Linked DNA regions of Homo sapiens: all the other regions are linked to region 4. The links come from fine-mapping of genetic effects on gene expression. A gene starts in region 4. Each other region holds a variant in brackets. All regions are shown on one strand. Distances are from middle to middle. Region 1 has its middle 14 kb from the start of VWF. Region 2 overlaps ANO2 (anoctamin 2). Region 3 overlaps VWF (von Willebrand factor). Region 4 holds the start of CD9 (CD9 molecule). Region 5 holds the start of LOC124902866 (a long non-coding RNA gene).

Region 1 (6,060 bases), 61 kb after region 4:
CCAGAAAGTGGCTCCCACAGTGCAGTGGGGGGCTGAAGGGCTCCTCAAATGCCGCCAAAGTGGGAGCCCAGGCAGGGGAGGTGCTGAGAGCAAGCAAGGGCTCTGAGGACTGCCAGCACGCTGTCACCTCTCAATACCTTAACTTGCAAGTAATTGAAAGTGGGTATATGTATGACTGTTGACCTGCCCCTGAGCTGGTGCTCTCAACACATTGCCTAGGGGTTAGCCCTGCTCTGCAGGAGTAGTCATAAAGTTGTCACACTGCTGCCTCCATAAAGCTGTTTTCTTCTACCACCAGCTGGCTCTTGAATTCTTTCCTGAGCAAAGCCAAGAATCTTCCAGGGCTAAGTCCCAATTTGGGAGCTTACTTGCCCTGCATCAGTGCAATCATAGCTCACTGCAGCCTGGAACTTCGGGGCTCAAGCAATCCTCCTGCCTGAGCCTCCTGAATAGCTAAGATGACAGATGTGTGCCACTACACCTGGCTAATTTTTTCTTTTTTTTGTAGACATGAGGTCTCACTTTGTTGCCTAGGCTGATCATTGTTTTTAAAATTTCTATCTTTACTGATTTTTATCTGCCTGACCTATGGATAATTGAGAAAGCCTTTTTGAAGTCAATTGTCAATTTATGTATTTTGAAGCTATTTTGTAAGATGCATATAAATTTGAGTTGCTGTAACTTTCTGCCTCTCAAATTAGAACCCCAGGTCTTGAGATAGTGATTCTGGGGTCAGGAATCCTGCTGTGCTACTACTGGGGCCAGGAATGCCACCAGATGTAATGGTCTGAGTTCTCTGTAGCTCGATAGCAGCAATAATGTGGTGTCATTGTTCCTGAGAACCAGGGAAGATGAGTCTGAAGCTGCACCATTCTTCTGACATTGTAGCGTGGGTGGGTCCTCTCTATTTTGATGATTGTGAAGGAAGTGAGCATGTTATTCTTGCACAAGATGTTTGTCTTTAGAAGAGAGGAAGTAGAGGAGGACAGCTTCCTCTCCGCTGGGGGCTACAGCTTTATGCTGGGAGCTGGTCGTCTGGCCTAAGAAATACTGCTGTGTTTATTTATTTGGCGCATACTGCCAAGAAAATTCTCTTTCCTGCAGAATTTACGTAAGAGAGATGCTACAAATATACAAAGAAAAGACAAAGATGGGTCCTCCTAGAAAACCTTTCCTCCCCTGAGGTTCTTTTGCTTTTGTACTAGTTACCTGGAGAACTTACTCCTCAGACAGGCAGAGGTCAATTTACCCATCCCCCTGCCTCTGAGCAGCCCTGCCCCATGCGCCCCCAGAGGTCACGCACCCTTCCCATTTGTACTTAATGCTGTTTACATCAGCCCAAGTTCTAATGGCTCTCATACTGTGGTCCTCAGGGATCCTTCTTCCTTGAGCCTCACAGCACTAATTGTCCTCTAACTTATTTGGCAAAGCTGCCTTGGGACACCCTCCATGAGGGCAAGGGAGCAGGTTGTGTGGCATGATATCTTGGCCTATATTAGTTTTCTATTGCTGCAGTGACAAATGACCACAAGCTTAGTGGCCTGAAACAACACAAATTTATCTTACAATTCGTAATTGTAAGAAGCTCGAATTGGATCAAAATCAAGGTGTGTTGGAAGAGCTGGATTCCTTCTGTAGGTTCTATGGGAGAACCTGTTCTTCGCCTCTATCCACTTCCAGGGGCACACATTCCTTGCCTCGTGGCCCCGCGTTGCATGACCTCTGCTCGCATCATCACATCTCCTTCCCTGATGCTGACCCTCCTGCTCCTCTTATAAAAACTCTTGTGATTATATCGGCCCAGCAGGATACTCTGGGGTAAGCCAGGATCATCTCCCCATCTCAAGACCCTTAACTTGCTCACATCTGCAAAATCCCTTTTGCCATGTAAGGTAGCATTCAGAGGTTTGAGATGGGATGTAGACATCTTTGGCTGTTCTTCTGCTACCGTAATGTGTTACGTGGTTGGCTGTATCTGCTCTTCTCTTGTCAAACCCATGGTCTCCTCCAGGCCCTCGTCTTCCCTGTCCGGGAAGGTTCCACCAACCACTAATGGATCTCCCTTTCTCCATCTGACCTCTCACAATACATGCCACTGCTGCCAGAGGGCCTCATCTGGTGTCACAGGATGAACATAAACCCCTACACTGGTTGAAGGTCCCTGAGGACTTGCCTCTTATTCCTCTCTTTGGTCTCTTTTCCTGTGAGTCTCCTTTATAGGCTGTAACAACTGGCTTATTCACCTACTTACTGATTTAGCATCTCAGAGCTTGCCTGCTTCTAAGCTTTTACTTCCTTCCTTGCAGCTGATGTGCCTTTGCCCTCATTTTCACCTGGCAAAATCCTACTCAGCAAATGGGTAATTAAACCATTGCAACCATTATAAACCATTGCAATTTTTCAGGGGGGCCATTTGGCCTTATTGTCAAAGGCCTCACTGAAAATGTGGACGGTGGCTGACCCAGTGCTCCACATGTAGGATTTCATCCTGTGGGAGTAATCCTGAGGGTTGTGCATGGATATAGCTTCAAAGATGTTCACTGCAGCATTGTTAATTAAAAAAAAAAAAAAGTAGGCCGGGAGTGGTGGCTCACGCCTGTAATCCCAGCACTTTGGGAGGCAGAGGCGGGCGGATCACGAGGTCAGGAGATTGAGGCCATCCTGGTTAACGCGGTGAAACCCTGTCTCTACTAAAAATACAAAAAATTAGCCGGGTGTAGTGGCGGG[T/C]GCCTGTAGTCCCAGCTACTCGGGAGGCTGAGGCAGGAGAATGGCATGAACCCAGGAGGTGGAGCTTGCAGTGAGCCGAGATTGCGCCACTGCACTCCAGCCTGGGTGACAGAGCGAGACTGCATCTCAAAAAAAAAAAAAAAAAAAAAAAAGTAGCACTAACCTAAATAAATATCCCATAATATGGAACTGGTTACATAAATTGTGGAATATCAGTAAGTGAACTATTCCAGCCAAGTGTGTTATACTCTGATAAAACAGACACTTGAGTGTTATTTAGAAATAGTGCCAGAGTGTCATATGAGTTACAGGCGCAGAATACCACATGGGAACGTGACCCCAGTCTGATGTCCCTGCCCCCTTGCAGAGCCATCCTGTGACTTTCACCGTGCAATTTCCCCAACCACAGTGACGAGTGCTATCTTCTGTGCTGATGATTTGGAGAGCAGGCAACAACTTCCTTGGGTATTAAGCAATTTTTTTTATCTGCAGTTTCAGTTCTGTAGCTACATTTTAATATTATATGCTAATTAACCCACATCATTGTTCTACTAGCAGGGAGTTCAACAGACATTTATGGAGCACTTACCATGTGCTATGCTCCAGACAGAGCACTTTGGAAGATACAGAGATGAGTAAGGCAAGGTCTTGTTCTAAGGAGAGCTCAGACTGGAGGAGATAAGACAAACAAAAATGCATGAAAAGGCTGGGAGCGGTGGCTCATGCCCATAATCCTAACACTTTGGGAGGACGAGGCGGGCAGATCACGAGGTCAGGAGATCAAGACCATCCTGGTAACACGGTGAAACCTCGTCTCTACTAAAAATATAAAAACAAAAAATTAGCTGAGTGTGGCGGTGGGCGTCTGTAGTCCCAGCTACTCGGGAGGCTGAGGTGGGAGAATGGCGTGAACCAGGGAGGCAGAGGTTGCAGTGAACCAAGATCGCGCCATTGCACTCCAGCCTGGGCAACAGAGCGAGACTCCGTCTCAAAAAAAAGAAAAATGCATGAAAAGATGAGAGGGCCACAGAAGCACCCAGAGGTGGTTCAAAGGCAGGAAAAGCGGGGGTGAAGGGTGGGAGGAAAGGAGAAAAGGCTTATGGAAGAGTTATAGGTATAGTGGAGAAAACACGGACTTTGTAATCAGGTAGATTCAGATGCTGGCTGCCTTTGGTAGCAGTGTGATCCTAGGCAAGGCCCTTACCCTGTCTGAGCCTCAGCATCCTCAACTATAAAATGAGAGTAACGCTCTCTTTCCCTCAAACGGTTGTTAGAAGGTACAGTGGATTGAATGGTGACCCCCAAAAGACATGTCCACATTCTAACTCCTGGACCCTGTGAATGTGACCTTACTTGGAAAAAGGCTTTTTGCAGATGTAATTAAGGATGTCAAGATAGATCACCCTAGATTACTAGATCCTTAGGCGGGGTGTGGTGGCTCACGCCTGTAATCCCAGCACTTTGGGAGGCCGAAGTGGGCAGATCACTTGAGGCCAGGAGTTTGAGACCAGACTGGCTAACATGGCAAAACCCTGTCTACTAAAAATACCAAAAAAAAAAAAAAAAAAAAAAAAGGCTGGGTGTGGTGGTGGTGCCTGTAATCCCAGCTACTCGGGAGGCTGAGGCAGGAGAATCACTTGAACCTCGGAGGTGAAGGCTGCAGTGAGTCAAGATTGTGCCACTGCAATCCAGCCTGGGTGATAGAGTGAGACTCCACCTTGACAAAAACAAAGAGGCTGGGTGCGGTGGCTCTCGCCTGTAATCCCAGCACTTTGGGAGGCTGAGGCGGGTGGATCACCTGAGGTCAGGAGTTCAAGACCAGTCTGGGCAACATGGTGAAACCCTGTCTCTACTAAAAATACAAAAATCCGCTGGGTGTGTTGGCACGTACCTGTAATCCTGGTTACCTGGAAGGCTGAGGCAAGAGAATCACTTGAGCCAGGTAGGCAGAGGTTGCAGTGAGCTGAGATTGCACCATTGCACTCCAGCCTGGGTGACAGTGAGACTCCGACTCAAACAAACAAAAAAACCAAAAAAAGATTACTAGGTCCTTCCAGATTACTTAGATTCAATGTCAGGTGTTCTTATAAGAAATATACAGTGGGAGACACACAGGGAGATGAGGAGAGAGCCATGTGAAGACAGAGGCTGAGATTAGAGTGATGCTGCCACAAGCCAAGGAAAGTCTGAAGCCACCAGAAGCTGGAAGAGGTGAGGAAGGTCTCTCCCTTACAGCCTTTGTGGACACCTTGATTTCAGACTTCTTCCTTTCAAAACTGTGGGAGAAGACATTTGTGCTGTTCTAAGCCACTCGGTTTGTGGTGATTTGTTACGGCAGCACTGGGACACTCACAGAGGAGGATGAAGTAACACAGTGTTCACAAGCAGCTAGCAGAGTATCTGGTACTTGCAAGGTGTTCACCAAATGACAAATTCTCCCTCTGCAGGAGGGGGACATGGAAGGATGAACAGGAGAGAGGAGGAGTGGGGAGGAGGCAGGACATTTGGATGGTGGAACAGTGTGAGCTGAACACAAGAGGTGTCTGGGAAGCAATGCCTCCGGGGACCAATCAGACATTCTGGGGTGCAGGGTGTGGGGTCAGGGTGGACGTGGGCGTGTGCTCAGCAAGGGTGCAGGAGGAAGGCACGTGTGCTGACTGTTGGATGGGAGGTTGGAGAAGAAGGGCCCACCGAAAGGGAAAGAGGCAGGCTGCTGGGGCTCCTCCTCGCCCTGGGGCCTTCCACCTGGGCTGCTCCTGCCTGGCCTCTAGTGCCTTGGTGCTCCTGGTGGAGCTGAAGCAGTGCTTGAGGCCATGCCAGAGGAAAGTCGCTGGGCTGCTGGTCATTAAAGGAGTCATAATGGGCTTGGGAAGAAGGAAGCAGCAAGTGGGATGGAGTGAAGATTTCAGATCCTTGAGTTTGTTTACTGAGCACCTGGTAACCCCCTGGATTCTTCTGTCAACCTGGCTATGAACATGTAATCAAGGATGGCAAGATAGATCATCCTAGATTACTAGATCCTTAGGTCAGGCATGGTGGCTCACACCTGTAATCCCAGCACTTTGGGAGGCCGAGGTGGGCGGATCACCTGAGATCAGGAGTTTGAGACCAGCTTGACCAACATAGTAAAACCCAGTCTTTATTAAAAAGTACAAAAGTTAGCTGGGTGTGGTGGCACATGCCTGTAATCTCAGCCACCTGGGAGGCTGAGGCAGGAGAATGGCGTGAACCTGGGAGGCGGAGCTTGCAGTGAGCCGAGATCTCGCCACCGCACTCCAGACTGGGTGACAGAGCAAGACTCCATATCAAAAAAAAAAAAAAAAAAAAGAAAAA
Region 2 (6,060 bases), 320 kb after region 4:
GGTCATCTTTGTCCATTGCTCTGGTTCTGGAAAGAATCATCATAAATCCAGTCCATCATGAGGATAGTAGATTCATTTTGGGGTAGCCAATATAGTTGCGCTTCCATCCATCCACCCACCCATTCCACCCCTCAATCCACTCATCCATCCATCCATCCATCCCCCACCTACCCATCCACTCATCCACCCATCCACTCATCCATCTATCCACCCACCCACCCACCCATCTATCCATCCATCCACCCACCCATCTATTCATCCATCCACCTATCCATCTCTTCATCCATCTGTCCTTTCATCCATTCACCCATCATTTATCAAATATCTACTAAATTCTAGGAACACTCCTAATCTGCTCCTTATTATTTAATTTATTTTGGTATTTCTATTAATTGAGAAGATCCATTCAATCCTTGCTTGACTTGATTTTTCTATTGCATTTGAAACAGTTGACTCCTTCCTCCTGCTTGACATTTTCCCTCCCTTGGGTGTCCAGGAGCCCATGATTCTTTCCTGAATCTCCTCTGCCTCTATGGGCTTCCTCTTATTCTCTTTCATGTGTTCTTTCTTCCTTATCTGTCATTGAAGTATCAGTGTTCTCAGAGTTCTGTCTTCAGATGTTTTTCTCTCCTTTTTCCTTTCCTTTGCTCTTCTTACACACACTTTTCTGGGCAATTTCATACATTTATGTGGCCTAAGTTACTATCTAACTACCTACGATGACTCTCAAATGCTCTTCTTTAACCTGCACTTATCCTGCGTTCCCCAGGCTCTTATGTCTGTCTCCTGAACATAAATGCCTGGATTTATGTTTTGGAAACATCTCAAGTTTAAGGTCTTCATAAAAAAACTCAGTATCTTCTCTGTAAAACCTGCGACTTCTTTATTCCTTGTCTTGCTGGTTGTCTTAACCATTCTCCCTGTCAACTACAACAGAATCTGGAAGCCTCCTTAGATTCTCTCTCCTCTCGTGTTCTGGTGGACACCAGGTCATGTCAATTCCATTTCCCGTATCTGTTTCTACCTTACCTTCCCCATTGCCACAATCTAATTCCAGCACTCACTATCTACCCTTGTGTGATTGAACTTCTTTCTAGATTTGCCCCTCCAAACCATCTTCATGCTCTATCAGAGTGATCTTTCCAAATGCAAATCTGATTAAGCCATTTCCTCATTAAAATCTTTCAATGGCTTCTAAGCACCTCAGAACGAGTTCACACTTCTTAAGCATGTTGTCCCAGGCTTTCACAATTAGTCTCTTGGCTACCTCTTTGCTTTTACTTGACCCCAAATGCACACCCTAGGCTGGAGTCAAACCAAACCACTTGTCATGCTGCTTCTTGCCTTCAGCCCCTGCCCCTGCTCCTCTCTCCATCTGAAATGCTCTTTCTTCTCTTAATATGTTGGTCTTAGCTCAAGCATTGTCTCTTCTATGAAGTCTTCTTTGACCCCTTAGGTTTCCTCTTCCCCACTTGTATTGCACCCTGCAAATATTGTAATAATTTGTTTTCATGTCTGTTTCCCTCCTAGATATTGAGCTTCTTGACAATGAGAATAGTGTCTTTTGTCCTGGTAACCCTAGTGCTTCACACAGGTCTTGTATCGAGAGAGAGAGCTTACTTAGCACGTGCTTATGACTATACCGTTCCCTAAGATTATTTTTCCTCTTCTGATCTGTATCTGAGCTATAATAACTTGTTTATTTAGACTTTTCCTTTTATCTTATCATGTCAGAAGTTCACCAAGAAACTGAAGGGCTTCTGAAATTGGCTTTGTTTCTTGGGCTTGAGTACAGTCCCTTCTTATTTACCTGCCTGCGGCTTCATCTGCTGATTATTGATGATTTGAAGAAAAAATTGTTTATGTGGAATCAGCTTCACGTGGCTCCTTAGCTCTGACCCTGCTTCTGCTTCCTTTCCCTTTTCCCCATCCTTATACCTGGGGAGCAGGAAATGCAGACAGCTTCAGTGTCAAGCCATGTTTTAAGTGGAGAAGGATGAAGAACACTGTCATGTTCTCGCAGGCCTTCCACACTTGTAGACGCACCAACTGTCCCACTTTTAGTGTTCCTGATGGTCAATTTCTCTTTCTTTCTTCAAACCAAATGTTAAGCCTGAGCAGGACATGATTAGCAATCTGCTTGAGGATAAAATGTTATAAGGTATGCGTTTGTTCCCTGCTCCATCTCCTATGGAAAACCACACCCTCAGTGAAGGTACTACTGGACAGTGTGTTTCTTCAGGGAGTCTCACATCTCAGTGCTGCCTTTCCTGGCATCTCTAAGTCACAACAGATCCTGTTTCCAGCAAGTTTGTATGGCCACATAAAATGCTGTGTAAATCAGTGTGGGAATGTGATGTTCCCAGTAATCTGTTGGCTCATTGAGGGATCGATGATCTCTAGCTTTATTGGTATTGGGTACTATGTTATTTGTTTGTCTATGTTATTTGTCTGTGTTTGTCTATGTTGTCTATGTTTGTCTATGTTATTTGAATCCAGCTTAAGAGAAAAATCAATAATGCCAATGTCAGGGGCATGCATCTATCTTATAATTAGTGAATCAATGAATTTATCAAGTGTTTTGGACATACTTGTTATGACCCAGGCATTGTGCCAGGGCTGGTAACACAGTGGGGGACAGAACTGGTGCCCGCCCAAGGGGGCAGCGTGGTATTATGGAAAAGCACTTAAGTGCTATAGACCTGAGCATGAATCTCGATTCCACCACTCCTTAATGTGTGATCCTCACCA[G/A]ATGAGTCAACCTCTCTGAGCCTCAGTTTCTTCATCTATAAAATGAAGATTATTCTACTTCCCTTACAGCATTATCGTAAGAATTGGAGATAAAATACATCACGCACAATCTGGTTTGTACAGTGCCTCACATTTAATAGACAGAGAGTCATAATTATTATTCCCATTCATAGTAGTGATTGTAGTAAAATGGAAAACCAGAACTTTGTGTGCCTTGGCTTACTGCAATAGCTGAAATTTATAGTGGTACATTCCCTGATAACAGACATGACTCTTAGTGCTGCATAGGTATTAATGCTTTAAACCAGGGGTCTCCAACCCCCCGGCCGTGGGCCGGTAGTGGAGGTGAGCTGCATGTGAACAAGTGAAGCTTCATCTGTATTTACAGCCACTCCCCATCACTCACATTACTGCCTGAGCTCCACCTCCTGTCAGATCAGCGGCGGCATTCGATTCTCATAGGAGGGTGAACCTTATTGTGAAATGCACATGCTAGGAATCTAGGTTGTGCGTTCCTTATGAGAATTTAACTAATGCCTGAAGATCTGAGGCGGAACAGTTTCATCCTGATCCCCCCACCCCAGGTCCATGCAAAAATGGTCTTCCAAGAAACTAGTCCCTGGTGCCAAAAAGGTTGGGGACCACTGCTTTAAACAAACATCTTATGAGCTAGATACTTTTATTATTTTGTAGCAGGGGAAACTGAGGCAGAGGAAAGTTAAATAGCTTGCCCAAGATCACATAATTGGTAATGGTTGGCTGGGGATGTGAGCCCAGCCTGGGCCCCTCATGTTATGTTCTTCTAGCCACCATATCACACTGCCTCTTCATGAAATGCTCAACCCAATCATATTTCTAAGTTGCTAACTCTCTTAAGACTCCCAGAACAACTACCTCAAATTTCTTGGCTTAAAACAATCAAAATCCAGAAGTCCAAAATGAAAGTGCCAGCAGGGTGGGTTCCTCCTGGAGGCTCTGAGGGAGAATCGTCACATGGCCGTCTCCTCGCTTCCTATGGCTACTGGCAGTCCTTCACTCCAATCTCTGCCTCCATCTTTACATTGCCTTCTTCTCTCTGTGTGTCTCTGTGTATCCTTTCCTCTACTTATAAGGACCTCAGTCATTAGGTTTAGGGCCACCTTAATCCACTATGACCTCATCTAAACAAATTCTATCTGCAAAACCTCTTCCATAAATAAGGTCACATTATGAGGTTCTGCATGGACATGAATTTTTCAGGGTAAGGGCGCTACTCAACCCACTTCAATAACCATTTGCTCTTTACTTTAAAGTGGGAATTGATGAAAGAATGTTTATTTACTGTCTTTTTTAAAAATTATACTTTAAGTTCTGGGATACATGTGCAGAATCTGCAGATTCGTTACATAGGTATACATGTGCCATGGTGGTTTGCTGCACCTATCAACCCGTCATCTACATTAGGTATTTCTCCTAATGCTATCCCTCCCCTAACCCCCTACCCCTGACAGGTCCCAGAGTGTGATGTTCCCCTCCCTGTGTCTATGTGTTCTCGTTGTTCAGCTCCCACTTATGAGTGAGAACATGCAGTGTTTAGTTTTCTGTTCCTGTGTTAGTTGGCTAAGAATGATGTTTCCAGCTTCATCCATGTCTCTGCAAACGATATTAACTCATCTTTTTTATGGCTGCATAGTGTTCCATGGTGTATATGTGCCACAATTTCTTTATCCAGTCTATCATTGATGGGCATTTGGGTTGGATCCAAATCTTTGCTATTGTGAATAGTGCTGCAATAAACATAAAAGTACATGTGTCTTTATAGTAGAATGGTTTGTAATCCTTTGCGTTTATACCCAGTAATAGGATTGCTGCGTCAAATGATGTTTCTGGTTCTAGATCCTTGAGGAATTGCCACACTGTCTTCCACAATGGTTGAACTAATTTACACTCCCACCAACAGTGTAAAAGCATTCATATTTCTCCACATCTGTTGGAATTATGTCCTAGAATATGATGCGGTTCTAAGAGCACTATTTTAATTACTTCATCTGCCTTTTTGGAATAAGACAGATGTGGAGAAATACGGTCTTATAAGAAGATGTGGAGAAATACTGTCTTATTCCAAAAAGGCAGGTGAAGTAATTAAAATAATGCTCTAAGAACCCCATCATATTCTAGGACTTAATTTCAATGGGTATTTGGGCCATGGCCAGAATAGCAGACTGAGGGGGATGCTTCCTTCCTCCTCAGCTGGGCTGGCCCTGCCCCTTGGCACCACAGCGACTAAGTCTGCAGTGGCAGTTTGAAGCCAGATACCATCCTTCTTCTCTCACATCTTTGCCCTGGCCTTCTCTCTACCCGGTAAAATACCTCAAGTTCCTTCATTCGTTTTTCATTGGCTATGGGCTTGAGTTCTTTAGCTTTCTCATCTCTCTTCTCTGAATGAGCTCTGATTTTCCTGACCTCTTGAAATGAACCAGTCATAGAGGGGCTGTTCCTCTCCGTCATTCTAGATGTAGCCTAGGACTTATCATCTTTTTCTAGTGGCCACGTTGTGCTGCTCACTGCAGTGATTTTGAACAATTCATAGCCTCTCTGAGCTCAGTCTGCTCTTGTGTATACTGGAGATCATTGCACTTAATCACAAGAATACTGAGAGAGCCAAGCGGCCTGATGTGTTTGATGGTGACCGTCACCGGTGCAGCATGATGAATGCGTTAGTGGTAGTTATTAGGCATCTGCTACAGGTTCAAGGTTAAAGAGCCTGGAAGCTCCCACAGATGGCTGCCTTCTTTGGTTGATCCCAGTCCTTGGAGGGCCATCAGTCGGGGATGGTTAGTGTGGGAGGAGATGGAGGAATGGATCCAGGAGCTGGAGTGTCTGGTCCAAACTTTTGATCAGTTCATGTGCCTTTTGATGTAGCAGGAAGGAGTACCCTTTAAGAGCAGTGCTGAGGCCAGCAGGCCAGCTTGCGTTCCCCTGCAATCTCTGGCAGGTATCATCCAAACTTGTGTGGGTGGATCTTCTTGCTGTGCTTCTTAGTATCTCATGGTCTGTCCTAGTGATGATCTCCTTAGGTTGTGAGACGTGAAACAGGTACTATCAGATCAGGGCATTAAGAGGACAAGCATTTATTGGACACCTATTATATATAAGGCACAGTATCAGACACTGGGGTTCAACAGGTAAAAGACACAGAGCTGGCCTTCAGGAAGTCCAGTATAGCAGACAGACATGTAAACAATTTCAGTGATGAGAGAGGGGCCAGGTGCAGATATGTCTATCAGTAAAGCCTGTCCTAGAGCAGGAGTTAGCAAACTGTGGCCTGCA
Region 3 (4,000 bases), 120 kb after region 4:
CCCCCCGCGCCCCCCCTCCCCGCCCACAGGCCGTGGTGTGTGATGTTCCCCTCCCTGTGTCCATGTGTTCTCATTGGAACTTGGCTTTTTATGTTGCTCATTTGACAAGCCCTTGAGGAGAGTTGGATAAGGACCTAGCACCCAAGCATTCAATTCAAAGGCCTCCCTAACATAATGTTCCCAAAATCCTTTAACGAACTATTTCTCAGGTGGGTTCCTTTCCCTTTTCCTTTTCCCTGGTGAGCAACAGAATGGACAAGAATCTGATGGTGCCCATAAGTGCATATTCACTGAGATGTTTCATATGGCTTGCGTGATACAACGTAGACTAAGGGACAAGACACGTAAGAGAAATTAAACCATGAAAGACTGTCTGGGGTTAGTAAATGACAAATCGCCAAGTGAATGGTAAGTGATAGCGCAGCTTAGGGGAATTAGCTCCTGTCACAGAGCTGATGCTTTTTTCTTGCTGGGAGCAGGATGGGTGAGTGATTCAGAAAGGGCTGCTTTCCATCCCCAGAGCTTGGTAGGCCCTAGACTGGGAACCAGGGAATGGTGCCCCGTCCTTGTCCATCCAGCCAGCATGCCCTAATCCCTAGAAGCTGCTCAGATGCCTCCAGGAGCCCCAAGGAGAAGGTGAGGAGGGTCCCTTAGAGAGGTCCATGGCCAAGTCTCCTACTTCTCATGAGCACTGGACCCCAGCTATCTTAGAGAGAGGAATGTCAAGCTCTGCAGAAACCATCCATTTGGTGGAAATCTATCAACAGGTTTCACCAGGTCCTTGTGAGTCAGAATCTTGGAATGCGGGTGGGAATCTTGGGCCGGCCAGAAGTTATAAATAGAATCAGCTACCCTCCCCCACCCATCATTACAGCTGACCAATGAGAAAGTATTCCCTGCTGCAGGGTGAATTCTTGAACCCACTACTTTGGAGCAGCTCAGACTCCAGGCGCCTCCATACCTACCAGGGGCTGCTGCAGGGCACCCATCCCAGAGCTAGAAAGATCAGGGCTTGTGGAACAATATTGCACTCTATGTATTAGACTTTCCTTTCTTTGTTCACTCAGTCCTAGGAATGTCCCCCTCCCTTCTCCTTTGTCAGCTGCTTGGGAGCAAACACAATAGCTAAGCTTCAGATCTCTGGCTCTGCTTTCTCTCCTCCTGCTGCCTGCCACTGAGATGTGCTTGCTTTCCCTCCTCCTCCCCTGCACCCGCCTGATGTCTCCAGGGAAGATGCCTGGTCTTCTTTAATGAACTGGAAATGTGATTAAGATGGGCCACAATTGGGCCTGCACACCAACCCAGGCATGGTGAGGTCATGGCTGGATGGGCTGGGGCAGCTGCTCTCCCGCAGCTCCTGGCACGGCCGACAGGAGTTGAAAGAAGACAGGAGTAGCTGATGCAGGGCCTTGGAGCCAGGGAGATGCTGGAAGTGTGCAAATTAGCTGGCCCTTGTTTTGCATCCCTGCCAGAATGGTTTAGCAGAGAACTGAGGAGCCAGTACCGATTGCAGGCAAATGAGAATAGTTATAAGCATTTGATTTCCTGGTGTCATCTCATTTGATTTCATTTTGCAGAAACCATCTAGGGTAGGTCCAAGTACTGCTGTCTGTGTCAGTTAGGAGTAGGTTCAGCTGTGAGTGACAGGACTTATACAATCTAAGTTTATTTATCTCTCATGTAAAGAAGTTTGGGGTAGGATGTCCAGGGCCATGCAAGATCTCATGGTGTTGGGATCCAGGGTCCCTCTGTCTTATTTCTCTGTTGTCCCCAGTGGGGGCTTCTACCTTGTGCACCAAAACGCCGGCTCAAGCTTCAGGCATCACAACTACATTCCCGCAGTAGAAAGAGAAGGGACTAAGGAAGAAGCAGTCCCTTATTTTGAGGACACTTGGTGGAGGTTGCACAAGACCCCTCTGCTTATAGCCTACTGGGTATTGCTTAGTCATATGGCTGCCCCCAGCTGCAAGGGAGGCTGAGAAATGGAATCTTATTCCTAGCAGCTCTGTGCCCCGTGGGGGTGGGAAATTGAAAACTGAGGATTCTGTGACTAAGAAGGGGAGAATAGCTCCTGGACAACTTTCAACCTCTTCCACTTTTCCCCTCTTTCACAGGTAGGGAAATGAGGATGCAGAGAGGCAAGATAATTTTCCTTTTCTTTTTTGTTTTTTGCGACGGAGTCTCGCTCTCTTGCCCAGGCTGGAGTGCCGTGGTGCAATCTTGGCTCACTGCAACCTCTGCCTCCCAGGCTCAAGTGATCCTCCCACCTCAGCCTCTCTAGTAGCTGAGACTACAGGCACGTGCCACCACGCCTGGCTAATTTTGGATATTTTTGTAGAGATAAGGTTTTGCCATATTGCTGGTCTCAAACTCCTGGACTCA[A/T]GTGATCTGCCCACTTTGGCCTCCAAAAGTGCTGGGATCAGGCCGGTTGCGGTGGCTCACGCCTGTAATCCCAGTACTTTGGGAGGCCGAGGTGGGTGGATCATGAGGTCAGAAGTTTGAGACTACCCTTCCAACATGGCAAAACCCCATCTCTACTAAAAATACAAGAGTGCTGGGATTACAGGTGTGAGCCACTGCACTTGGCCAAGATCATTTTCTTAAAGTCACACGCTTTGAAAGTGATGGGTTGCGAGAGGCAGAGGTTGCATTGAGCTGAGATCACGCCATTGCACTCCAGCCTGGGCAACAAGAGCGAGACTTCATCTAAAAAAAGAAAGTGATGGGTTGAGATTCTAGCCCAACCATGCTTCTAAAACCTGAGCTACAGCCACTGTATGACCCTGTCTTCTAATCTGATTGCTAGGAAACAGGAGTGGGAGGGCAGGATGGAAAACTGTAATTTGTGGTTTGGAATGGACTCAGGCACTCAGGGTTTGCACCCCATCACTAGTGTTAAAAGAAAAACCTGAGACAAATTAAATTTAACAGGGTTTACTTGAGCAAAGAATGATGCATGAACCAGGCAGCCCCCGAATCAGAACAGGCTCAGAGAGACTCTGGCCTGCCTCATGGTCAAAGAAGATTTATGGACAGAAAAAGACAAGTGACTTACAGAAACTGGAAGTGAGGTAGAGAAACAGTTGGATTGGCTACAGCGCAACATTTGCCTTATTAGAACGTAGTTTGAACAGTGGGCTGCCCCAAGAGGAGGTTACAGTGTGTTTACATCTCCAGTTAGGTTACAGTTCATTATGTAGGGAGAAACCTTTAGGCCTAACTTAAAATATGTAAGGAGGCAGCTTTCGGCTAAACTTAAAATTTAACGATTGTATAGCAGTTCTCCAACTGTTTAATCGCAGGGCCCCTGTATACTCTTAAAAAATAATGAAGGACTTTAAAGAGATTTTGTTTATGTGGGTCATAACTCTTGATACTTACCATATTAGATATTAAAACAAATTTAAAACATTTTTTGATTCATTTTAAAATAACAAGCTCATCATATTTAATGTAAAGAACATATTTTTAGGCCAGGCGCGGTGGCTCACGCCTGCAATCCCAGCACTTTGGGAGGCCTAGGCGGGCAGATCATGAGGTCAGGAGTTCGAGACCAGCCTGACCAACATGGTGGAACCCAGTCTCTACTAAAAATACAAAAATTAGCCGGGCGTGGTGGTGTGCACCTGTAATATCAGCTACTCAGGAGGCTGAGGCAAGAGAATTGCTTGAACCCTAGAGGCAGAGGTTGCAGTGAGCCGAGATTGTGCCACTGCACTCCAGCCTGGGCGACAGAGCGAGACTGCGTTTCAAAAAAAAAAACACCATATTTTTAAATAAAAAGAACGATAAATTCCAAGCCAAAAAATAATTTAGGGGAAAAATGACACTGTTTTACAGTTTTGCAAATCTCCTTGCTGTCTGGCTTCAGATACATCATCTGGACTCTCATATCTGCGTCTGCATTTAAATCTGTTGGGATATCTCATGTCTCATAGCCTCGGAAAACTGCACTGCACTCTGGTGAAAGAGTGAGAGAAAAAATTGCAAATAGCATCTT
Region 4 (6,060 bases):
CTAGAACAAGAAAGGCTCTAAAGACTAACACTCTGCACAAGTGGACCGACCACAGTCTTCCTTTTCATTACATCATCTCCTAGGGATGAGGGCTTCATCTCCACAGGGACCCAGATACAGGACAAATGAACAGTAATTCAGGAAAACATAGCTACTGCCCATCTTCCTGCCTCTGATGAAGATGGAAGAGGACAGAAGTAAAGTAGGGGCCCCAGGAATTGTAATACTGGCTCTGTCTCTGCGATCCTGGGTAAATCACCCCATCTCTCTTCCTCTGCTGCCTCACTATGAATAAGAGAGCTGGACTGCATGATCTTCAAAAGTCATTCCAAACATTTCCAGTGTGAGTGATTTCTGTTTCAGACTACATAGGTCATCAGCTGCACCTAGGCTGGGGCCAGGCATAGGGGGTTCTGAATACGAGTGGGGTGGCAGGCTGAGGACAGTACGGACAGATTGCAGGCCAGCAGGCCACAGACAGAGTAGATACCAGTGGCCCTGTGAGCCTCGCATCAGCTTCCTGCATATGCCATGGGGCAGATGGGGGTAGGGAGGCACACTGTGGCAGTCTGTGTTTCCCTGCAGTCCCAAACCTGGATGCAGTCTAGGCAGACAGCTGAGGACTAACCAACACACCAGCCGGGAGAGACTGTACCTGGGAGGGGAGAGGAAAACTCCCAAAGTTCAAGGGTGGGTGAGGCCAGCTGCCTTCCCGCATACTTTTCTGCTGCCAGGGATTGGTGAAAGAAAGAAGCTAAGCGTGGCAGCTGGGTGGTTGCTGGGGTGGGTGGCAACACAGGAGGAGGGGTGCCCACGGCCAGCAGGGTCTTTTTAAAGCAAGTCAAGGGTTGGGAAGGAGCACACCTATATGCCGTCCTCACTGGGGTGTGTGTTATGGTGACTGATGCACTGGGGGAAGTCAGTCTCTGCAAATTGGAAAAACTGTTCAACCACCCCTTCAGCTCTGGGGAGGAGTGAATCTTAGAAGATTTCCCTAAGGAGGCTTGTGGGGACCTCAGTGACCAGCTCCAGGGGGAATAAGTGCATTTGTTTCTTTTCTACTTTTTTTGAGACAGGGCTCACTAGGTCACCCAGGCTAAGTGCAGTGGTGCAATCATGACTCACCGCAGCCTTGACCTCCCAGGCTCATGCCATCCTCTCATCTCAGCCTCCTGAGTAGCTGCGATCACAGGTGCATGCCAACACGCCCAGCTAATTTTTTATTTTTTTGTGGAGATGGGGGTCTCACTATGTTACCCAGGCTGGTCTTGAACCTGGATGAAAGCGATCCTCCTGCCTCAGCCTCCCAAAGTGCTGGGATTACAGGCATGAGCCACTGTGCCTGGCCAAGTGCACTTTTTTGTTACAAGACTCTGGTGGCATGCACCTGTTTCTACATCCATCTATCTTGAGAGTGGCATAGAGACTCTCTTCCTGCCTGCAGAGCGGCAAGTATTGTCATGTGTGTGCAGGGAATGTGGCTATAGAAACAAGGACACAAGGGTTTCCTATTCCTTGCTTCTGTCGCCTCTCAGCCTTCCCATTTGTAGAGGCTGAGTGGCCTGCAGCAGGTGTCTCTGGAGCTCCTGGCCCCGCTGGCCTCTCCAGATGAACGTCCGCTCTGCGCCCTGCCTGGCCTTGGGTGGGCCGCCTGGGCTGGCGGGGAGGGGAGAGGGCAAGGCCAAGGCTCTCCTGGGCGGGCAGCTGGCTGGCACCTGATCTCTCCCGGAAATGCACACACAGGACTCATCCCACTAGAGGCGCAGATAGGTATCTGCCCCCTCCTCTCCCGAACTCTGAGTTCTCTCCAGTGAAGATACTTATCGTCCTTGAAAGAAATCAAGACAAGCTAGTCTTTCAGGGAGCTACCAGGGAGTTCGGCGCTCTCACGGTGGCTCAGAATCAAAGTCTGAGGGAACGGGGGCCTGCGAGGTTCCTCCTCAAGGGTGGAGGGGCCCCCGACTCTCAGGGACTGGGTCCCGGGGCCGGACCCGCGGCCGAGGCACCCCTGCCGCTCCTGCGTAAAAGTGAGAGCCGCTCTTGGCTGAGCTCTCGCCGTGCCCGCACCCTCCCTTCCTGGCGCCCCCTACTACCTGGGAGACCCCACCCGGTCACAAGCCATACTGCTCACCACAGTCCTCCTTGGCCTTGGCCCAAAGAGGGGTGCTCCGCTTCTCCCTGCCTTCCTCTCTGGCACTCGGAGGGACTTGAGCTGGGAGCAGACACACACCCCAGCTCAAATCCTAGGCGAGCTAAAGTGCTCAGGACCCTCCCGCACGCCTCATCTCAAGAGGGCCCGGCTCCCCACGCCGGCTGGGCGGTGATGAGCCCCCACCCGAATGCGCCCGTCGCGGCCGTCCCGCCCGGCTCTGGACCCGGCCTTGGAGCCAGCTGGCAGCCGCAGGGCGCTCTCTCTTCCCGCCCGGTGCCTGCCCGGTGCGGGCAGTGCCAGCTGCCGGCACTCGCGGCCGCGGCCAGTGTCCGGGGCCCGCGAACAGGTGGGCCCTGAGAGGAGCGCGCGGCAGTCGCGCTCACTCACCCAGAAGATGAAGTTAAATCCGAACAGCAGGTATTTGATGCACTTGGTGCCTCCTTTGACCGGCATGGTGAGGGCTAACTTAGCCTGGGCCGAACGGGTGCGGGACTGGGGGGCGCGCGCAGCTGGGACTGGCGGGACCTGGCGCTGGATACAGATGCAGGCGGCTGTAGGCTGGTCTCCGGCTGCACTTTTAAAAAGTGCCACTCCTTAGGGCGCGCGACCCGCTGCGGTGCGCATGTGCCGGGAAAAGCCGCCCCCACTCCCCCCGCCGGCCACGCCTCCCGCCCCACCGGCCCCGCCCGGGCCGCACCCCCCCCGCCCCCCGCCCCCGCCCAGGTCGGCGAGCCCCGGCCCCAGCTGCCCCGCGGAGCCCGACCCTCTCCCTGTTTCCCCGCCTAGTCGCCCTAACCCCCACCCGCCACCCACTCCTTCTTCAAGCCGTCTTGGGGTCTTTGCAGGCAGCCACTCCCTGCCACTTTTACCGCGGACTTACGTGGAGGCCTCGCCCTTCCGGTTCCCCCGCGTTTGGTCTGGGCGCCGGACCGGGCGTTCTGCTTTGGGAGACTCTTCCCCGGGTCGTCAGGGCTAAAGGCCCCTTGGCCAAGGCCTGCTGCCAGAGTGAGGGGCCCTTCTGCTTTGCGAGGATTTAAAGGGAAGCCGCCTGGCTTAATTTCGCCCTCGTCTGTCTCCTTGCAAACCTTCGCTCGCTGACCATACTTTTCATTGGGCACAGCATGTGGGGTAGGAGGAATTAGAAGCGCGCAGTCTGGGTGGGATGACAGATGGGAGGCTTTTGGAAGTAATTAGCAAATACCTATCACCGAATAATAACACAGCTGAGGGCTGGGCAGTCCCCAAGCGCTTCCTGCACTTGAGGTTTAGTTGCCCCAGAGGGAAAAAGGGTCTGTAGACGGCTTCTGTTTTCTCTCTACTCCTCCACCCCACCCTCCCTCCTGCGTCTTTGGACTTGCTCGCTGCTGCCTTGAACTGCTCCAGATGCCGAGCTCGGAGCGCTTCTCCTGAGCTCACAAACTTTCTGTAGCTCTCCAGATTCAAGGACCTAAGTCGAAATTCCTCGTCTTGCCCTCAAGGCCCTGTACAGAGCACTGATCTGACTTCTCCCGGACCCAGAGCCCACCCCACTCGCTGGCCGGCATGCGCCCTGGCTGGCTGGCCCCCCCCCAACGTCACTTGTAGGAATTCTGTGGGTCTTTAAACACTCCTTTCCTGATTCTCTGGAGTGGACGAGGAGAGTCACCTTCTTTTGAAGTCCCCGAATCCCTTTGTATTATTTTCAAAATGAAGTTTCCTTTACTGTCCTTTATGATTACAAAAGCAAGATACAGTCATTACAGAAACAACCGAAATACCAAGAAGTGAAAGGAACAGACCTCAAAATTCTGCTCACCAGAAACAGCCACTGTTAGCACATTGCTGTTATTTGCCTGTTTATTATCAGTAGACTTGTCTCATTGGTTCAAAAACATTTTTCAGTATCTATTAGGGTATTTCATTAGGGGTAGGAGCTGAAAAACATGGATTAGTCCTTGTTTCTGCTCAGGGACCAGTGTGGGAGGAGACAGGCAGCCAGACAATGGTTTGAGGGTGATAGGTGCAGTTACGGGGAGAGGCTTGGGGGCTAAGAGGCTAAGGAGAGGCCTCTGACCCAGACTGGGAGATGATGCTGCAGAACCACAGGGAAAGTTGCCGCCAAGGGAGAATCCTGGGCAAAGGCTGGGGCAGGGGCTGTCCGGGCTCTGGGCTGGAGCCTGGAGTCACGGGGTAGTTTGTGGGAAGGTGAGAAAGAGCCTTGTGCTCCTGGACTTTGCACTCTGAGCATTAGGGGCCACCGAAAGGTTCAAGCAGGGGAATGGTTGGATCTGCTGTGTTTTCAGAGGTTCTCTGCCTGTGTTTTAGGTAGTTGGGTGGGGGAAGGCCGGAGGGGCAGGTAGGAAGCCCCTTGAGGACCAGGACCATTGTTGGCATCTCCAGTCCTTGGCTCAGTGCTTTACGGGATTGCATGGAACATGGAGATGTTGTATTTGGGGAGACGCAATCAGGTAATATGAGGGGAGCAGTGGTAGATGAAAGTTGAGCTGAGGACCAGGTGCAAATCTGCTAGGAGGCTGTGGAGTAGTTCAGGTGAGAGAAGAATGAATGAAGGCGGGGCAATGGGATAAAGCCTAGAGAAGGCAGGGCAAAACCCCATGAGGTGTCAGGCCGGGAAGGGGAGGGAGAGATCAGAGGCAGAGCAGCAGAAGCTAGTAACAAGTAGGGGCACAGGGCACATCCCCACGTCAATCTGAGTCCGAGAGGCTCCCCAGAGCAGGGGACATTGCAGCAGCTGACTTGACTTGGGAAGGTGGAGTCAGTAGTCAATGCGGAGGAGGGAATTCCAAGAGGGAACTGGATATGCAAAGACACAGAAGCGGGCAGCTGGCTGCACTGGGGAAACAACCGATAGTGGTACATGGGGAGGAAGGAGGACAAGGAAGGAGAGGCAGGGCCTAAACTGAGCCTAATGCCAAGAGGACAAGCAGAGGAATTTTGGTGATGCTTGACTTTACACATCCTAACCAGTGTCCAGGATGATTCCAGCACAGGGGAGGAGTGTGAAGCACCCTGGAGGGTGGGAAGGAGGCCGGAAAACAGTCAGTGTTCCATTGTGCCCTTTTGGGCCTGCGTCCATCTATCTTGGGAGACAGGTCTTAGGAAAAGAAAGATTTTATTGCATCTCCCCCTTCTCCCAAGTTAACAAGTACTGGTGGGAGGAGTTCAGTAAATATTTAAGTTTATAATAGAAATTACTTATTAGGGTAAACGTGAGTGTTGACAGAGGAAATCCACAGGGAGGCCTTAGAACCTGCCTGCCACAGAAGCGCTGCAGAAACGCTGCCTGTTGCTCCTATTCCTATTATTGTTTACACTGAAGAAAGAATTGGGGTCAGCCTATATAGTTCAGTGCCACATTCGTATAATCAAGGCATCCTTTTTATGTGATGAGAGCATTGGGCCTGAAGTGAGGGGGTCTGAGTTCTACTCTTGGTTCTGACCCTTTGGTCTATGTTAGGCAGGCAGCCTCCTCTCTGGGCCTCAGTCTCCTCACCTGTACAAGAGTATTGTGAAAGGAAAATAAATCTTAGGACCCCAAAATCAATAAGCCAAAGGAAAAAATCAAGCTGGGAACTGCCACAGGCAAACCTGCCTCCCATTCCTAAATAAGATAGCTACAAAGATTTTTTAAAAAGCTATGCACTTCTCGGCCGGGCGCAGTGGCTCACGCCTGTAATCCCAGCACTTTGGGAGGCCAAGGTGGGCGGATCACGAGGTGAGGAGATCGAGACCATCCTGGCCAACATAGTGAAACCGCATCTCTACTAAAAATACAAAAATTAGCCAGGCATGGTGGCGCATACCTATAATCCCAGCTACTCGGGAGGCAGAGGCAGGAGAATCCCTTGAACCAGGGAGTTGGAGGTTGCAGTGAGCCGAGATCGCGCCACAGCACTCTAGCCTGGCGA
Region 5 (6,060 bases), 32 kb after region 4:
GAGTATTTTCTAAAATAATAACTTTCTTACTTTAGAACAATTTTAGAGTTATAGAATTATAGTGCAGGGAATTCCTGTATACCCTGTGCCCAGTGTCCCTATTATTATTAATTTTTTAAATGTTTTCCTTTTTTTTTGGAGATGGTCTCGCTCTGTCACCCAGGCTAGAGTGCAATGGCTTGATCTCTGCTAACTGCAACTTCCTTCTCTTGGGTTCAAGCGATTCTCCCACCTCAGCCTCCCAAGTAGCTGGGATTACAGGCACCTGCCATCATGCCCAGCTAATTTTCGTATTTTTAGTAGAGACGGGGTTTCACCATGTTGGCCAGGCTGGTCTTGAACTCCTGACCTCAGGTGATCTGCCTGCCTCGGCCTCCCAAAGTGCTGGGATTACAGGCGTGAGCCACTGCGCCCAGCTCTATTTTTCTATTTCTTTTTCATCCCTTTTCACCATTCCTAATGTCCCCTGTCATTAACATCTTACATTAGTGTGGTACATATGTCACTGTTAATGAACTAATATTATTAACTAAAGTGCACACTTTATTCAGCTTTCTTTTTTTTTTAACCTATTGCCCCCATTCTGTCCCAGGATCCCACCAGGATTCTATATTACATTTAGTCATCATGTCTCTGTAGGCTCCTCTTGGCTGTGACAGTTTCACAGACTTCCCTTGTTTTTGGTGATCTGGACTATTTTGAGAGGTGCTGGTCAGGATTTTGCAGAATGTCCTTTAACTGGGATGTGTCTCATGTTTTCCTCTTGAGTAGACTGGCGTTTGGGTTTTGGAGAGGGAGACCACAGAGGTAAGTGTCATTCTCATCCCATGATATCAAGGGCACTATCAACGTGACTTATGGCTGTTGGTGTTCACCTTGGTCACCTGTTTCTTTAGTGTAAAGCTATTCTTTTCTTTGCTCCCTTTCCATGATGTTCTGAAGAATCATTTTTTGAGCACCAAAAGAAGAAACTGGTGGCGGGGCGCAGTGGCTCACACCTGTAATCCCAGCACTTTGGGAGGCCGAGGCGGGCGGATCACCTGAGATCAGGCATTCGAGACCAACCTGGCCAACATGGTGAAACCCCATCTCTACTAAAAATACAAAAATTAGCCGGGCATGGTGGTGCATGCCTGAAATCCCAGCTACTCAGGAGGTTGAGGAGGGAGAATTGCTTGAACCTGGGGGGCGGAGGTTGCAGTCAGCCGAGATTGCACCACTGCCCTCCAGCCTGGGTGACAGTGAGACTCCATCTCAAAAAAAAAAAAAAAAAAAAAAAGAAGAAGAAGAAGAAGAAACTGGCAACTCTGGCAACTCTCCTAAGAGGGAGGAAGAGAGGAGAAAGGACAGGGCAGGGCGGTGACAAGTGTCCTGGAACGGAAAAAGAAAAAAGAAGAAAAAAATTGCACCTGTGTAGGAGGAGATGCTGGTGGCCCTTGGAGTGCCCATGTGAGAGAAGAGCCAGTTCCAGGATTCCAGTGAGAGCAGCCAGCTCAGCGTGGCTCAGCAGCGGGGGACAGCCGTCTAGGAATCCCTGCGGAGCACCCCAGAGAAGGAGCTTCACCTCGGGACCTGGGTCTCATTTTCAGGGACTTCATCTCCCTGAAAAGCAATGCTGCATCAGACACAGAGACGCCCCGACAGAACGGAAAACAATATGCACTGTTCAACATGAAACTCCCATTCATCTCACTGCTGCATGACTTTGCCTAAGAGTTCAGGATAAAGTAATGTTTGCAAATACATCCTGAAATTGCTTTTGTGGGTTAGCATCATTAGATTGCATTATGCTTTGGGATTAAAAGCGTTAACTTTGCCATGTAGCTATTTCAAATAGATCACAAGCTCTTTTTTTTTTTTTTTTGATGATCACCACTATACTAACGAGGATCAAATAGACCACAAGTTCTGCAACCCTGTTTAGATGTTTCTTCATTTCATAAAGTATAGGTACCAAGAATCTCAGTACCTCCTCCTCTCCCCCCAGACTTTCTCTTGTTATTCTGGGATCAAAGGGGCCTCATGTCCCCTCTGAGGGACCTTACCCCTATCAAGCAGGCTGGCAAGCGGGAGAACGGAGGCCTGAGAAGCTGCAACACAGCTACACTGAACTCCCCAGCCAAGCCATGTGCTTGCATCTGCCCGTCTACTCCAGAGTGTGAGCCAAACATCTGAGACTGTGAGAATTCGGAGAGCTGACCCCAGACGTTGGTTCCAGTGTTGGGAGGAACCTGGGAAAATCAAGGGATGCTTTGGTCCTGTCATTGTGACTGACAAGCAATTAGAGGTGAATATCTGTGAATATTTGGGGGTTTAGAATGTACCTGTTGAAATGAAATGCCCCTGGGATATGAAATAACTTTAGCTGTTGGCATCTAAGACAACAGAGGCAGCTGGACGTGGTGACTCACGCCTGTAATCCCAGCACTTTGGGAGGCCGAGGCGGGTGGATCACCTGAGATCACGAGTTTGAGACCAGCCTGACCAACATGGTGAAACCCCATCTCTACTAAATACAAAAAATTAGCCGGGCGTAGTGGCGCATGCCTGTAATTCCAGCTACTTGGGAGGCTGAGGCAGGAGAATTGCTTGAATCCGGGAGGCGGAGGTTACAGTGAGCCAAGATTGCACCATTGCACTCCAGCCTGGGCAACAAGAGTGAAACTCCATCTCCCCCCCCACCCCGCAAAAAAAGACAACAGAGGCGTTCAATCAGTCGGCCGCGGTGAGCAATGTCCCGTGAGAATGGGGCCCAAGACAGAAGTCTAGGAAAGGGTGTATGTGGGCGAGGTAGACACAGATAGGGGCTGTGGACGGAAGGACTCTAGGACCTGCTTGCAGTCTGTCATGAGTCTTTGGACTATTTATAGCTGGTGACCTCAGATGAGTCACCCCCATGATTCAGTTTCCCCATTTCTCTGAGATATGGAGACAGCAGCTGGTCAGGAAGGGACCCTTTCCCTCCTCTCCGCCTCTC[C/T]ACCGCCACCACTGCCGTCACCGGCACCCATGTTCTGCCCACACAGTAGCCCAGGATGCCAAGGGCTAAAGGCTTGACATAGACGACACCTAATGTAATCTCACAGCCCTGGGACACAGCTCTTGTTATTGCCTCCACTTTGCAGAAGGGAAAAGTGAGCCTTATAGAGGCTGAATAACATGCCTGATGTCTACACTGGGGATGGGTGGATGTGGGCTGGTGTTCGGGCCACCCTGACTCACACTTGGTTGGCCAGGGCTTCCACTGCTAAATCCATCTGGGTCAGGGGCTGGCAACATTTTCTTCATCAGGTAAATATTCTAGGCTTTGTGGGGCATATGATCTCTCTTCCTCTCACCCCAGATTTTCTCCTGTTACTCAACACTTTAAAAATGTAAAAACCATTCTTAGCTAGTGAGCTGCACATAGGAGTCTGCTGGCTGGATTTGGCCTGAAGGCCAGAGTTTAGTCACCTCTGATAACAGGAAAGCAAAAAATGCAAATTGCTGTGGGCTGTCATATCTCCCCAGATTTCAGAGGCGTTCTAAAACTCACTCAAAGAATCCTGGGCCCTGGAGGGTGGCAGGGCTACCTGTGCGGCCCAGGTGGATGTTAGTTTTACTGAGGACCTACTGGGGTGTGGGCACCACGGTGTCTCTCCCATGGCCACTATTCCTACGGGCAGTTACTGCCCCTCACACTTGTCCCTCTGTGTCCTACCCTCTGTGGGGGCTCACTGGGGGCCCAGCTTCTCCACCCTGTCACCATCCTGGCCTCACTTTCCTTTCTCCTGGGACTTCGGTTCTTGGTCAAGTGAGGCTGGACAGGCCCAGCTGTGGCCCCTGGCTGAGCTGCAGAGGAAGCTGAGAGGACCTGCTATCAGCTCCTTTTGGCCAGGCTGCCTCAGTGGCCAGCGTGGGGTGGGAGATGCTGAGGCAGAAATGGGGGAGAAGAGGTGGGAGCTCTGCAGCCGGAGGGAGGAGTTCCGTGGCCTGGGCAGGAAGCTGGGAAACCTCTGTTTCTTTCTTTCTTTGTTTTGTTTTTTTTTTTGAGACGGAGTCTCGCTCTATTGCCCAGGCTGGAGTGCAGTGGCACGATCTCAGCTCACTTCAAGCTCCGCCTCCCGAGTTCATGCCATTCTCCTGCCTCAGCCTCCCAAGTAGCTGGGACTACAGGCACCCGCCACCACGCCTGGCCAATTTTTTGTATTTTTTAGTAGAGACAGGGTTTCACTGTGTTAGCTGGGATGGTCTTGATTTCCTGACCTCGTGATCCACCTGCCTCGGCCTCCCAAAGTGCTGGGATTACAGGCGTGAGCCACCACGCTCGGCCACCTCTCTGTTTCTAAGGCTCCTCAGAGTTAAGGAGGTTTGTGAAAGGAGTAAACACAGGAATTCTGCTTGTGTGTGGGGCCTGCCTGTGCGTGTGTATCACATACAACCCATGCCTGTGTTCCTGTGGAGAGGGAGCATGGAAGGGGCCCGTGTTCTAGGCAATGCACAAAATAGTTAAACCAGGTCTGAAACTGGGATCAAGTCCCAACACCACCACTGACCAACCATGGGAACCAGGTCCAGGTCTTTAACCTCTTGGACACTCACTTTCCTCATCTGTAAAATGGAAATAGCAATATCTCAGCAGATTGCTGTAAAGCTTACAAAGTAACACGATTTATCGAATGCTTCCTACTGGGCAGGCACTATTCTAGGGGCTTTCTATATTCAGTTGATCCTCATCACTCATACATTCTGTATTTAAAGATTTGTCTACTCTGGCCGGGTGTGGTGGCTCATGCCTGTAATCCCAGAACTTTGGGAGGCCGAGGTGGGTGGATCACGAGGTCAGGAGATCAAGACTACCCTGGCTAACATGGTGAAACCCCGTCTCTACTAAAAATACAAAAAAAATTAGCCGGGCGTGTTGGCGGGCGCCTGTAGTCCCAGCTACTCGGGAGGCTGAGGCAGGAGAATGGTGTGAACATGGGAGGTGGAGCTTGCAGTGAGCCGAGATAGCACCGCTGCACTCCAGCCTGGGCAACTGAGCAAGACTCCATCTCAAAAAAATAAAAATAAAAAAATAAAAATTTGTCTACTCCATACAATTTACTTGTATTGCCAAAATCAATACTCACAGTGCTTGCATGGCCATCCATGAACACAGAGCAGAGAAAAATTTGGCAGGATGTGCACATTCCCAGCAGAGGGTGAACAAGGTGACAGTCTGCCTTCTTGTTTCAGCTCATACCACAAGCAAGTGTCCTTTTCAAGGTCTACTTGGTACCATGTGTTTTGCATTTTTCTGCTGCGTGTTGGTGATTCCACTGTTTAAAATGGTCCCAGCATCATGCTGAAGTGCTGTCCAGAGTTCCTAAGTGAGAGAAAGCTGTGATGTGTCATGTGGAGAAAATATGTCTAGTAGTTAAGCTTCGTGCAGGCATGAGTTATAGTGCTGTTGGCTATGAGTTCAATGTGAATTATTCAGCAATATATATTGAATAAGGTGTCGTTAGACAGAAACACACATAAGAAAAAGTTATGCATTGATTTGTTGATGAAAATGTGACCAGAGGCTCACAGGAACCTCCCCTTGTATCTCCCCTAGGAGCACTGGTTTGGCATTCACTAATTCAGTGTTTGCAGTGACTCCATAAAACACAGCCACTATGAATAATGAGAATTGACTGTATTGGCCAGGCACAGTAGCTCACACCTGTAATCCCAGCACTTTGGGAGGCCAAGGTAAGCAGATCACTTGAGGTCAGGAGTTTCAGACCAGCCTGGCCAACATGGTGAAACCCTGTCTCTACTAAAAATACAAAAAATTAGCTGGGTGTGGTGGTGGGCACCTGTAATCCCAGCTACTCGGGAGGTCGCAGTGAGCCGAGATTGCACCACTGCCCTCCAGCCTGGGCAACAAGAGCAAAAGTCCGTCTCCAAAAAAAAAAAAAAAAAAAAAAGAAGAAGAAGAAGAAGAAGAAAAGAAGACAAGAATTTACTGTATTAACTCATCTTTTGAAAATTTTATTTACTTATTTTTATTTTTTATTGTTTTGAGACAGAGTCTCGCTCTGTTGCTAGGCTGGA

The links.
Region 1: its variant is fine-mapped to the expression of CD9 in whole blood (TOPMed, PIP above 0.99). The same link has a PIP of 0.9 or more in T cells, blood mononuclear cells and monocytes.
Region 2: its variant is fine-mapped to the expression of CD9 in whole blood (TOPMed, PIP 0.98).
Region 3: its variant is fine-mapped to the expression of CD9 in whole blood (TOPMed, PIP above 0.99).
Region 5: its variant is fine-mapped to the expression of CD9 in whole blood (TOPMed, PIP 0.99).

What each region holds. Positions count from the first base shown.
Region 1 is chr12:6,136,087-6,142,146 of GRCh38, reverse strand. No RefSeq gene overlaps it. Among named protein-coding and RNA genes, the nearest start is that of VWF, 14 kb to the right of the region's middle. The variant T/C (reference allele first, on the strand shown) is at 2,728.
Region 2 is chr12:5,875,003-5,881,062 of GRCh38, reverse strand. All of the region lies in intron 3 of ANO2 (anoctamin 2), which reads left to right. Among named protein-coding and RNA genes, the nearest start is that of ANO2, 67 kb to the left of the region's middle. The variant G/A (reference allele first, on the strand shown) is at 2,752.
Region 3 is chr12:6,081,736-6,085,735 of GRCh38, reverse strand. All of the region lies in intron 6 of VWF (von Willebrand factor), which reads left to right. Among named protein-coding and RNA genes, the nearest start is that of VWF, 41 kb to the left of the region's middle. RefSeq lists enhancers at 1,403-2,147, 2,148-2,894. The variant A/T (reference allele first, on the strand shown) is at 2,383.
Region 4 is chr12:6,197,045-6,203,104 of GRCh38, reverse strand. CD9 (CD9 molecule) reads right to left here and starts at 2,705. Exons shown (of 8, transcript NM_001769.4): 1 at 2,540-2,705. The coding sequence starts at 2,605. RefSeq lists enhancers at 158-769, 770-1,382, 2,609-3,220, 3,221-3,833.
Region 5 is chr12:6,164,813-6,170,872 of GRCh38, reverse strand. It overlaps LOC124902866 (a long non-coding RNA gene), which reads left to right and starts at 1,262. Exons shown (of 2, transcript XR_007063189.1): 1 at 1,262-2,725. It overlaps LOC105369623 (a long non-coding RNA gene), which reads left to right. Exons shown (of 3, transcript XR_931588.3): 3 at 943-1,039. RefSeq lists enhancers at 2,756-3,050, 2,783-3,062. The variant C/T (reference allele first, on the strand shown) is at 2,978.